Linked DNA regions of Homo sapiens. The protein of the gene in region 3 purifies or fractionates together with the protein of the main gene of each other region. This does not show direct contact. Each region holds a gene or a part of one and is shown on either strand. Other genes may lie near its edges. The genes, in order: SCFD1, MTMR14 and MIA3.

The links.
Region 1: the proteins of MIA3 (region 3) and SCFD1 purify together in Homo sapiens (affinity purification with western blotting, with the first as the bait; one study listed by BioGRID). This does not show direct contact.
Region 2: the proteins of MIA3 (region 3) and MTMR14 purify together in Homo sapiens (affinity purification with mass spectrometry, with the first as the bait; one large-scale study listed by BioGRID). This does not show direct contact.

The regions. Positions count from the first base shown.
Region 1 is NC_000014.9:30,730,258-30,733,432, reverse strand, and holds part of SCFD1 (sec1 family domain-containing protein 1), read right to left. Parts: intron 1-3,175. UniProt on the Homo sapiens protein: Plays a role in SNARE-pin assembly and Golgi-to-ER retrograde transport via its interaction with COG4. Involved in vesicular transport between the endoplasmic reticulum and the Golgi.
Region 2 is NC_000003.12:9,666,505-9,670,163, reverse strand, and holds part of MTMR14 (phosphatidylinositol-3,5-bisphosphate 3-phosphatase MTMR14), read right to left. Parts: intron 1,446-3,659; coding exon 1,370-1,445; intron 733-1,369; coding exon 672-732; intron 1-671. UniProt on the Homo sapiens protein: Lipid phosphatase that specifically dephosphorylates the D-3 position of phosphatidylinositol 3-phosphate and phosphatidylinositol 3,5-bisphosphate, generating phosphatidylinositol and phosphatidylinositol 5-phosphate.
Region 3 is NC_000001.11:222,662,943-222,665,806, reverse strand, and holds part of MIA3 (transport and Golgi organization protein 1 homolog isoform 1 precursor), read right to left. Parts: intron 1,810-2,864; coding exon 1,659-1,809; intron 499-1,658; coding exon 188-498; 3' UTR 1-187.

The DNA.
Region 1 (3,175 bases), on a different chromosome or scaffold from region 3:
AGTGTAGGTGTAATTTTAAAGAAACACTGTAGTTTACCAAACATTCCAGTGCAAACTTGTTCTTAATCATGTACAAGCTTGATGACCCCTTTACTTACTCTGTCAGTTAAAAATTGAACTTTATGGGCTGGGCGCAGTGGCTCATGCCTGTAATCTCAGCACTTTGGGAGGCCGAGGCAAGTGGATCACAAGGTCAGGAGTTCGAGACCAGCCTGGCCAGCATGGTGAAACCCCATCTCTACTAAAAATACAAAAATTAGCCAGGTGTGGTGGCGCATGCCTGTAATCCCAGCTACCCAGGAGGCTAAGGCAGGAGAACTGATTGATTGAACTCGGGAGGCAGAGGTTGCAGTGAGCCAAGACTGCGCCACTGCACTCCAGCCTGGGTGAGAGAATGAGACTCTGTCTCAAAAAAAAAAAAAGAAAAAAAAATCGAACTTTATAAAATGTACCAGTATATTGATTCAATGTAAAATTAACTCAGTGTAGTTCTTTCTCTAACCAATCACCTTCCATCAAGAGAATACCTTGTGGTTTTAAGTCAAGTTCCCAATTCATCAATATTAGTATTATCAAATGTTTTGATAAAATCAGTCAAATTATTTTTTACCAATTATACCAAAGTTATACCAAATAGCATTTACATTGTGAGTTAGATTAACAACATTACTAAATAAATCAGAATTACAGCAGTATTTTCTGGCACTTGCCCCTTATGTTGTGGACTAGTATAAACCAAGGGCCATGTTAGTTAATTCTGTATTGCCAGTCTCATGTAGGCATAGTCGCATGTTTAGTTTCATACTACGAGACTGTACTGACACAGGTTTCTAATGATGTGAGGAAGGCTGTCATAGACCTAGCTCAGTTCCTTCTTAATAGGGCTGAATGGTAGGGAAAAGATTAGGATTATTCAGGACAAAAAAACTAAAAGGGATTTAAAAATCCTCTCAGGACAATAAACTGGGGAGCTTAGTAGCTACTAAAAATTTAATGGATCTAAAGGGCATCTATGAATAATGTAATAAAATATATAATGGTCAAAGACTAGATGCTTTGCCCGTATGATGAGAAAGAAGACAAGGATGTCTGCTCTTGCCTCTTCTATTCAACAATGTACTGAAGGTTCTAGCCAGGGCAGTTGCAGAAGATAGAAAAGAAGCAAAACTATCTCTATTAATAGATAACATGATCTTGTATATAGAAACTTCTAAAAATCCATTAAAAACAATTGGAACTAATAAACTCAGCAAGGCTGTGAAACGTAAGATCAACATAAAAATCGGTTGGATTTTTATGCACTTGGAATGAGGAATCCAAAAATGAACTTAAGAAAATGCCTTTTGTCTTTGACAAAATTCAACAGCCCTTCATGCTAAAAACTCTCAATGAATTAGGTATTGATGGGACGTATCTCAAAATAATAAGAGCTATTTATGACAAGCCCACAGCCAATATCATACTGAATGGGCAAAAACTGGAAGCATTCCCTTTGAAAACTGGCACAAGACAGGGATGCCCTCTCTCACCTCTCCTATTCAACATAGTGTTGGAAGTTCTGGCCAGGGCAATCAGGCAGGAGAAAGAAATACAGGGTATTCAATTAGGAAAAGAGGAAGTCAAATTGTCCCTGTTTGCAGATGACATGATTGTATATCTAGAAAACCCCATTATCTCAGCCCAAAATCTCCTTAAGCAGATAAGCAACTTCAGCAAAGTCTCAGGATACAAAAATCAATGTGCAAAAATCACAAGCATTCCCAAACATCAATAATAGACAAACAGAGAGCCAAATCATGAGTGAACTCCCATTCACAATTGCTTCAAAGAGAATAAAATACCTAGGAATCCAACTTACAAGGGATGTGAAGGACCTCTTCAAGGAGAACTACAAACCACTGCTCAACGAAGTAAAAGAGGACACAAACAAATGGAAGAACATTCCATGCCCATGGATAGGAAGAATCAATTATCCTGAAAATGGCCATACTGCCCAAGGTAATTTATAGATTCAATGCCATCCCCATCAAGCTACCAATGACTTTCTTCACAGAATTGGAAAAAACTACTTTAAAGTTCATATGGAACCAAAAAAGAGCCTGCATTGCCAAGTCAATCCTAAGCAAAAAGAACAAAGCTGGAGGCATCACACTACCTGACTTCAAACTATACTACAAGGCTACAGTAACCAAAACAGCATGGTACTGGTACCAAAACAGAGATATAGACCAGTGGAACAGAACAGAGCCCTCAGATATAATACCACACATCTACAACCATCTGATCTTTGACAAACCTGACAAAAACAAGAAATGGGGAATGGGTTCCCTATTTAATAAATGGTGCTGGGAAAACTGGCTAGCCATATGTAGAAAGCTGAAACTGGATCCCTTCCTTACACCCTATACAAAAATTAATTCAAGATGGATTAAAGACTTAAATGTTAGACCTAAAACCATAAAAACCCTAGAAGAAAACCTAGGCAATACCATTCAGGACATAGACATGGGCAAGGACTTCATGTCTAAAACACCAAAAGCAATGGCAACAAAAGCCAAAATTGACAAATGGGATCTAACTAAACTAAGGAGCTTCTGCACAGCAAAAGAAACTACCATCAGAGTGAACAGGCAACCTAAAGAATGGGAGAAAATTTTTGCAATCTACTCATCTGACAAAGGGCTAATATCCAGAATCTACAAAGAACTCAACTTTACAAGAAAAAAGCAACCCCATCAAAAAGTGGGCGAAGGATATGAACAGATACTTCTAAAAAGAAGACATTTATGCAGCCAACAGACACATGAAAAAGTGCTCATCATCACTGGCCATCAGAGAAATGCAAATCAAAACCACAATGAGATACATCTCACACCAGTTAGAATGGCAATCATTAAAAAGTCAGGGAACAACAGGTGCTGGAGAGGATGTGGAGAAATAGGAACACTTTTACACTGTTGGTGGGACTGTAAACTAGTTCAACCATTGGGGAAGACAGTGTGGCGATTCCTCAAGGATGTAGAACTAGAAATACCATTTGACCCAGCCATCCCATTACTGGGTATATACCCAAAGGATTATAAATCATGCTGCTATAAAGACACATGCACAGGTATGTTTATTGCGGCACTATTCACAACAGCAAAGACTTGGAACCAACCCAAATGTCCATCAA
Region 2 (3,659 bases), on a different chromosome or scaffold from region 3:
ATGCTTGACACCAGTTAAAGACTTTCCATGTGGTACAGACCATGCAAAGGAGCTTTTCTAAAATATCCTGTAGTATTGTTTTCTAAAAACATTTGGAAAGCGGATAGCAAGAGTGTGAACCAGCCCATTTCCTCCTTTTATAGGGACTCAAACTCCTGTTCTGTACCAAGCTCTTCTTATGTGTAGTACCAATCATGCAGCTGTGACACATCTGGTCTCCAAATGTGCCTTCCAGGCTAGACCTCATGTCTCCTATGTATGGACTGTAGCCCTTGCCCTGTGCCTCAGTACCAGCTGTACTGGGTGAGATCTGGCAGGTTGGTAATCAGCATCATAGCTGCAAACTGGCAACTCTGTGGGGCTTTAAAACAAATATAGATGTCTGGGCCCTATCTCGGGCCTGCAGTACCAGGAACCCCAAGAGTGGGATGTTCTCTGTGAATCCAGGTGTGCAGTCAAGATGGGGACAGACTGCTCAGGTATTTGGCTGCTACCCAGTGGACTTCAACAGCCATATTTCAGGGGCACAGACTTGGCAGACAGAAGAGGAAGAAGCCAATCCACTCACCTGAACCAGTGACAAATACCCACGGACAATATGAACATGGCCATCTCTGGCCAGACACCCCATCCCCAACACAAGCCCCTGACCACAGCAACCCAGCACTGACCGAAGAGCACAGTCCTCCTCCGTGACGTCCTCCACATCTGCCCAGGCATCATCTGCACCCCCTGCCAGAGAAACCTATCTGTCAGTACTGAGGCTGGTGACCCAGGGCTCCACACAGGGGCCTCCTCACCAGCCTCCTTCCCCATAGTGCCAAGGGTGGGCTGGGACTACATGGCTCTACTCCTAAGGACACAGTATGCCCCCATATGCCTGGTAGTCTTCACCTCTAAGGTGAACTCCTGTTTGTCTCCTGGTCCCTGATCAAAGGAAGGCCCCTGATCTCCACCCAGCTCACTCAGACCCCCTACCTATACTATTGTGGTCATGGGTGGCTATTCTTTTTTTTTTTTTTTTGAGACGGAGTCTCACTCTGTTGCCCAGGCTGGAGTGCAGTGGCGTGATCTCGGCTCACTGCAACCTCCATCTCCCGGGTTCAAGCGATTCTCCTGCCTCAGCCTCCTGAGTAGCTGGGACTACAGGTGTGCATCACCACACCCGGCAAATTTTTGGTATTTTTTAGTAGAGATGGGGTTTCACCGTGTTAGCCAGGATGGTCTCGAACTCCTGACCTCGGGATCCGCTCGCCTTGGCCTCCCAAAGTGTTGAGATTACAGGCGTGAGGCATGGCGCCCGGCCCGGGTAGCTATTCTCTATGACTGGGTTCTCATTCTACATCAGAGGATGCTGTTCAACATTCACCTGAGAAAAAATAGTTGTAGCCTGAGCGTCCATACAGCTCTCCCCATCCAGCCAGTGTGGCCGACCTGCAAATGTGCTGGGAGAGAAACATCATTTTCACGGTCAGATGGTTTTCTGAAGCATGCACAGTTGAAGGAACATGTGGGACTCCTCTGACTCTTCCAGGCCAGCATAACGGGCCCAGGAGCACTCCCCAAAGTTTTATCAGCATCAAGGCTGCCACAATCAGTCAGAAGATCCCTAGTACTTAATCCACAACCTCTACTGAGGGAGTCTCACTCCCAAACAAGAGGCGCCAGTGTTACCAACAGGATCGGATCAGATTGGGTGGTTGTTGCATGTGTACCACGTGCTGGACATGGTACTGAAAAACCCATCATCTTCTCACTGAATTTTACAACAAGCCCATGAGGGATATGTGGCAGGTGGCATGCATTGTTGCTGTTACACAGATGAAGAAAAGAAAAACAGGCTAAGGGAGGTTAAGTGATGTGTAAGGTCATATAATGAGGGGTGAGCTGGGATTTGATCCAAACCCACTGACCTCTATGTGCTTACTGTGATTTGGAACTGTTCAGTGTAGACAGGAACAACCTTTCTAGCGGGGGCAAGGGGTGAGTGAGAAATGTTTTAGAGGCTTCTTTTCCTCATCACTGAAGGGATCACTGTTAAGAGAATTCTAGAAACGGGCAACTGGCACAAACCTCAATATCTAATTGTAAGGTTACTTGTTTAAAATAAATAGTGTTTGCTGAAATCTAGTTGGGTGGGGGGAATGGGAGGAGATACCTGGTGATGGGAAGGCAAACCAGCCCAGAATTTAGCTAAAGGCTAGGAGAACATGACCCTGTTACACTACAATGGGAAATGGCGAAGTTGTGAGGTGACAGACAGGGAGTGAAGCTCACTGCTGAATGGGTAACACAATGTGCAAATGGAAAGTGGATCCCTGGAAGATTGCCAAGTACCATCTGAAGGCTTCTCCATCTCTACCTGTAAGATAATGGGAAGGAAAGTTTTGCTGCTACAGCAAAGAGTTGTGCGTGGGAACGACTAGGTCACTTTCTGGCTCTATCTGAGGTAGCAGCAGACAAGGGGTGGGGACGTGGGGACAGCAATAGAAAAGCTACCTGGATATAACCTGGGACAGAATGAGGGGCATTATTGGTGCTGGGGCAAGAGCTGGTTTGTGGAGAGGCTGTCCTGGAAGCCTACTGAGGAAGCCTACCAAGGGCTGGCATTCCTGCTGGCTTAAGTAGGATGTACTCCAGTGGGGGCCACTTAACTTTCTGTGGGTCTAAAAGCAATTTGAAAATCTGATAAAAAAGTATGAACTATCTCCTGAAAAAAAAAATATGTACACATCATAATCTACTTACATTTCCAGGGATTTCTGGACTCTCTCAAGTCCACTGATGAACCCATTCCCAGACCCCGTTAAAAGCCCTTGCTTTAAGAAGTCAGTCAAGCAGTGAGGAGTAAAGTGGATGCTTCCACAGGAAAGGGCTGAGGACCTCTAAGACTCCAAGACGTTGGCAGGGTGTGTGGCTGCCTGTTCCACTGGCATTTGTATCATATCCACTCTCCCCGCTTCATCTAAGCTGCTGGCAGCTGACCTCACTCTCCTTTGCATTATTTCTGTTAAATCTTTCAGAGCAGATAGCTGCCTTCTTTTTGGCTGTTGAGTTCTGAGACCCTTTTTCTGTTCCCAATTATTCTTCCACATCCCTTCTATTGACCTTGTCTTTTTAGTAATTGAGGCAGCCAGACCTAGGCCAGCAAAACCCGAGTCAGATGGAGAAAAACAAGTTGGCCAAGTCCCCAAGTGGGGAACCAGCCTCTTCAGGAAGGCCCCTGTGGGAGGGCTGACCCCTCTTGATAGACACCTGTTCCTTTGCCTCATGGTTCTGACTCATAACCCATCATCTCTGCCCTTTAAGCTGGCTCCTGACTGAAAACGCAAGATCTACCCTGAATGCTCTCCATTTACCTAGTTAGGAATGGCCTCTAATACGGTCCGTGGAAAAGCACTCTGTATAATTTTCTAATTTAGTAACCTCTGACCTCTGCTCCCCACCTCTTAAACAAAAAGAAAGATGAATTGTTCCAGTTTCAATGGTCTAAAAGCCAGACTCAAGTGTTTGGGGAGAAAATGGTATGAGAACTTACTGTTCAATGCTTGAACTGAGTTTTGAAAAATTATTTAATATACTTTACTTAACCCATCATATCCAAGACATTATGTCAACATGTAATCACTTTTAAAATGAATATTTTACATTTTTTCTAT
Region 3 (2,864 bases):
TTTTATTTAGGGAAGAAATGACATTTTTGAATTGTTTGGCTCAAAAATGCACACTGCCAAGGCAGCTTAGTTCTAACAACAAACCTTTTAAAATAAACTTTTGGATTTTGAAGCCAATGAAATCCTTTACTGTAATGGATAATGCACAGTACACTTTCTTTCCAATGAAACCTCAGAGGTCATAGTTTTATGGGCTCTGTTTTAAAGCCTGTGAACAGTCCTGGCTAGTGCTCTGAGAGGCAGGTGGAGGCTCATCTCTAGAGCCTGACGGCAGTAAGTCTCTTACAGCAGGTGGTGGTGGGTATTCCTGGGGACCATGGGTTGGGGGTGGTAATCGGGTACCAGGAATAAAGTACTCTCTTGGGCCAAGTGAACCTAAAGGTCTAAATGGTGCGTGTCCAGGTAAAAATCCCCGAGGGTGGAGAGGCAGGTCCCGTCTTCCTGGTGGAACGCCTGGTGCAAATTCTCTTAAGCCTAGTGGTGGACGCATACCAGGGCCTGGAAAACAAAAATTATTTCCAGTAAATTCCTAGGAACGTATTTAAATTAAGATAATGCCAGGTATGTTAATATAGTCTGTCATCCTTTTTTTTTTTTTTTTTTTTTTTTGGCGGCAGGGTCTTGCCTGTCACATGGGCTGGAGTGTAATGAGTGATCATGGCTCACTGCAGCCTCAATCTCCCGGACTCAATCAATCCTCCCACCTCAGACTCCCCAGTAGCTGGGACTACAGGTGCACGCCACCACTCCCAGCTAATTTTTGGATTTTTTGTAGAGATGGGGGTTTCACCATGTTGCCCAGGCTGGTCTCAAACTCCTAGGCTCAAGGGATCCACCTGCCTCAGCCTCGTCTAATGAATGCTGGGATTCATAAAGTGCTGGGATTACAGGCGTGAGCCACTGTGCCTGGCCTGCCATCTTTATCTGAAAAAGAGAGATAGATTTGTACTTGGAAGTACTATATACCATACCAAGAAGACAGACTAAATATGGCTTCATTGCAATAAAAATTTTGATAAATTCCATTAACTACTGTGTATCAGTTAAAAATTTATGCAGTAGCTCAAGATGTACCTAATAAATGCCATAAAAATTAAGGTGCTTGCCCTGCTGGAAAAGGCTTTCCAGCTCCATCTAATTAAATTCAGCAGCATTCATTAGATAGCTGTTAAATTCTACCTTCTCTTTCATATCTCCCTTCTTTGTATTCCCAAGGTGAGGGTTGAGGGTTTTGTCTTTCCTTAATATTCTGTGACCTACTGCTTATGCTTCCATTATGGGTGATTAGAAGCTTTATGTTGTAGAATGTGTATATTTGTGACCTACAGGACATCTTAGTTAGGGGATGTATTTTATCTACCTTGCTATCCATTGCAGAGCCTAGTACACAGCCACAGATGTTCAATGTGATGAATATTTCTGGCTTTTTATAAATAGCCCCTTTCCTTGTTCTATTAGAGACAACTATTGCCCATCTAATCACAGGAGATTATGTAGCACCCTTTGTGTCTGAAGAAACTTGGGGAAAAGTTACGGTGTACTCAATCAGCTTCACTGCTGCATTGCAAAGCCCCGCAATTGCAGTTGTTTTAGCAAGGGATAGATGGAGAAGATGAATGTGCTTTACAAGTCAATTACTACTGTTCAGATCATCTTACCAAAGGGTGGAGGAAGTGGCCGAGGCCCAAAAGGTCCGCAGAGCTGAGGTGGTGGTCCATATCGAATGGGTGGTGGTACAGGGCCTCCCATGGGGGTGCTCATGAGAGGGACTCCTGGGAAAGGAGGGGGCCCTTTTGGAGCCATATTAACCTGCAGAGTAGAAACAATTGAAGTTTTGAAATACTATGGTATGACAGACAAAAGCACCAACACCAGTAAAAACTAAAACCCAATGAAGCAGATGTCAGGCACTTGTCCAAAGAGCAGAATTAGTGCAAAAAACTCTACCCCTCTCATTTGTTCCCACTGACAAGCTTAGAAAGGTTAAAAGTATGCCACAGGAGTGAACACTTGCTGTATCATATTATTGCTTACATCTGCAAATGGAAGGGAACGCACAGGTTATAAATGGAGGTCATTCCTGACTAATGATAGAAGTTACGCCATTCATACATCTATTTCTAAGGCAGTCACTCCCTCTGCACATCCCTCCTATCAGAGTAATTTCCATATTAAGAATGCAGAGAATGAAAGGGAATGAAAAATCCATTCTCTACCATGTAACAGCGATTATTCAGAGTACCTTCTGTAGGCCCTACATATATTAACACAAATTCTGACATCTCTAAATCTGTAATAGGACCATCTTGTTCTAAATATGCAGGAACACAGGCGCAGAGAGTATTAGATTTGCTGATGGTCACACAGCATGTAAGAGGCTGGCTGGAATTCCATGCCAGGTTTGACTCCAAGGCCACGTTCTTTCCACCTCTGCTTCTCCTTTCTAACAAAGTAGTCTCTACACTCTTCGAAGTCTCCTACTTCAAAGGGGTCTCGGGTCTTATCCAAGCTGCTCTTGGATAAAAACATTTCTCAAGAAATGTGTATTCCTGGAGTCCTGTGCTGGAACTTGGAAGTATTTTCCAAGAGAAACAATGTTATGTACACAAATTATACAGGCACAGCTCTATTCATCTTCATTCACTAGTAATACTGTCTACTATGAGATACTGATTAATCACTTCCTATGGGAAAGTGGGTTGGAAACTCTCAATCATTAAAATTATTTTAATTTCAATGTCGAGAATCACAGTGAGGTATGATCAGAGGACTTACCAGCCATAACAGCTATACAAGTTACAAGAGAATACACTTATGTGGACACTGTTTAAGGACACTGCTGGGAACTGGCTCAACGGGTAATT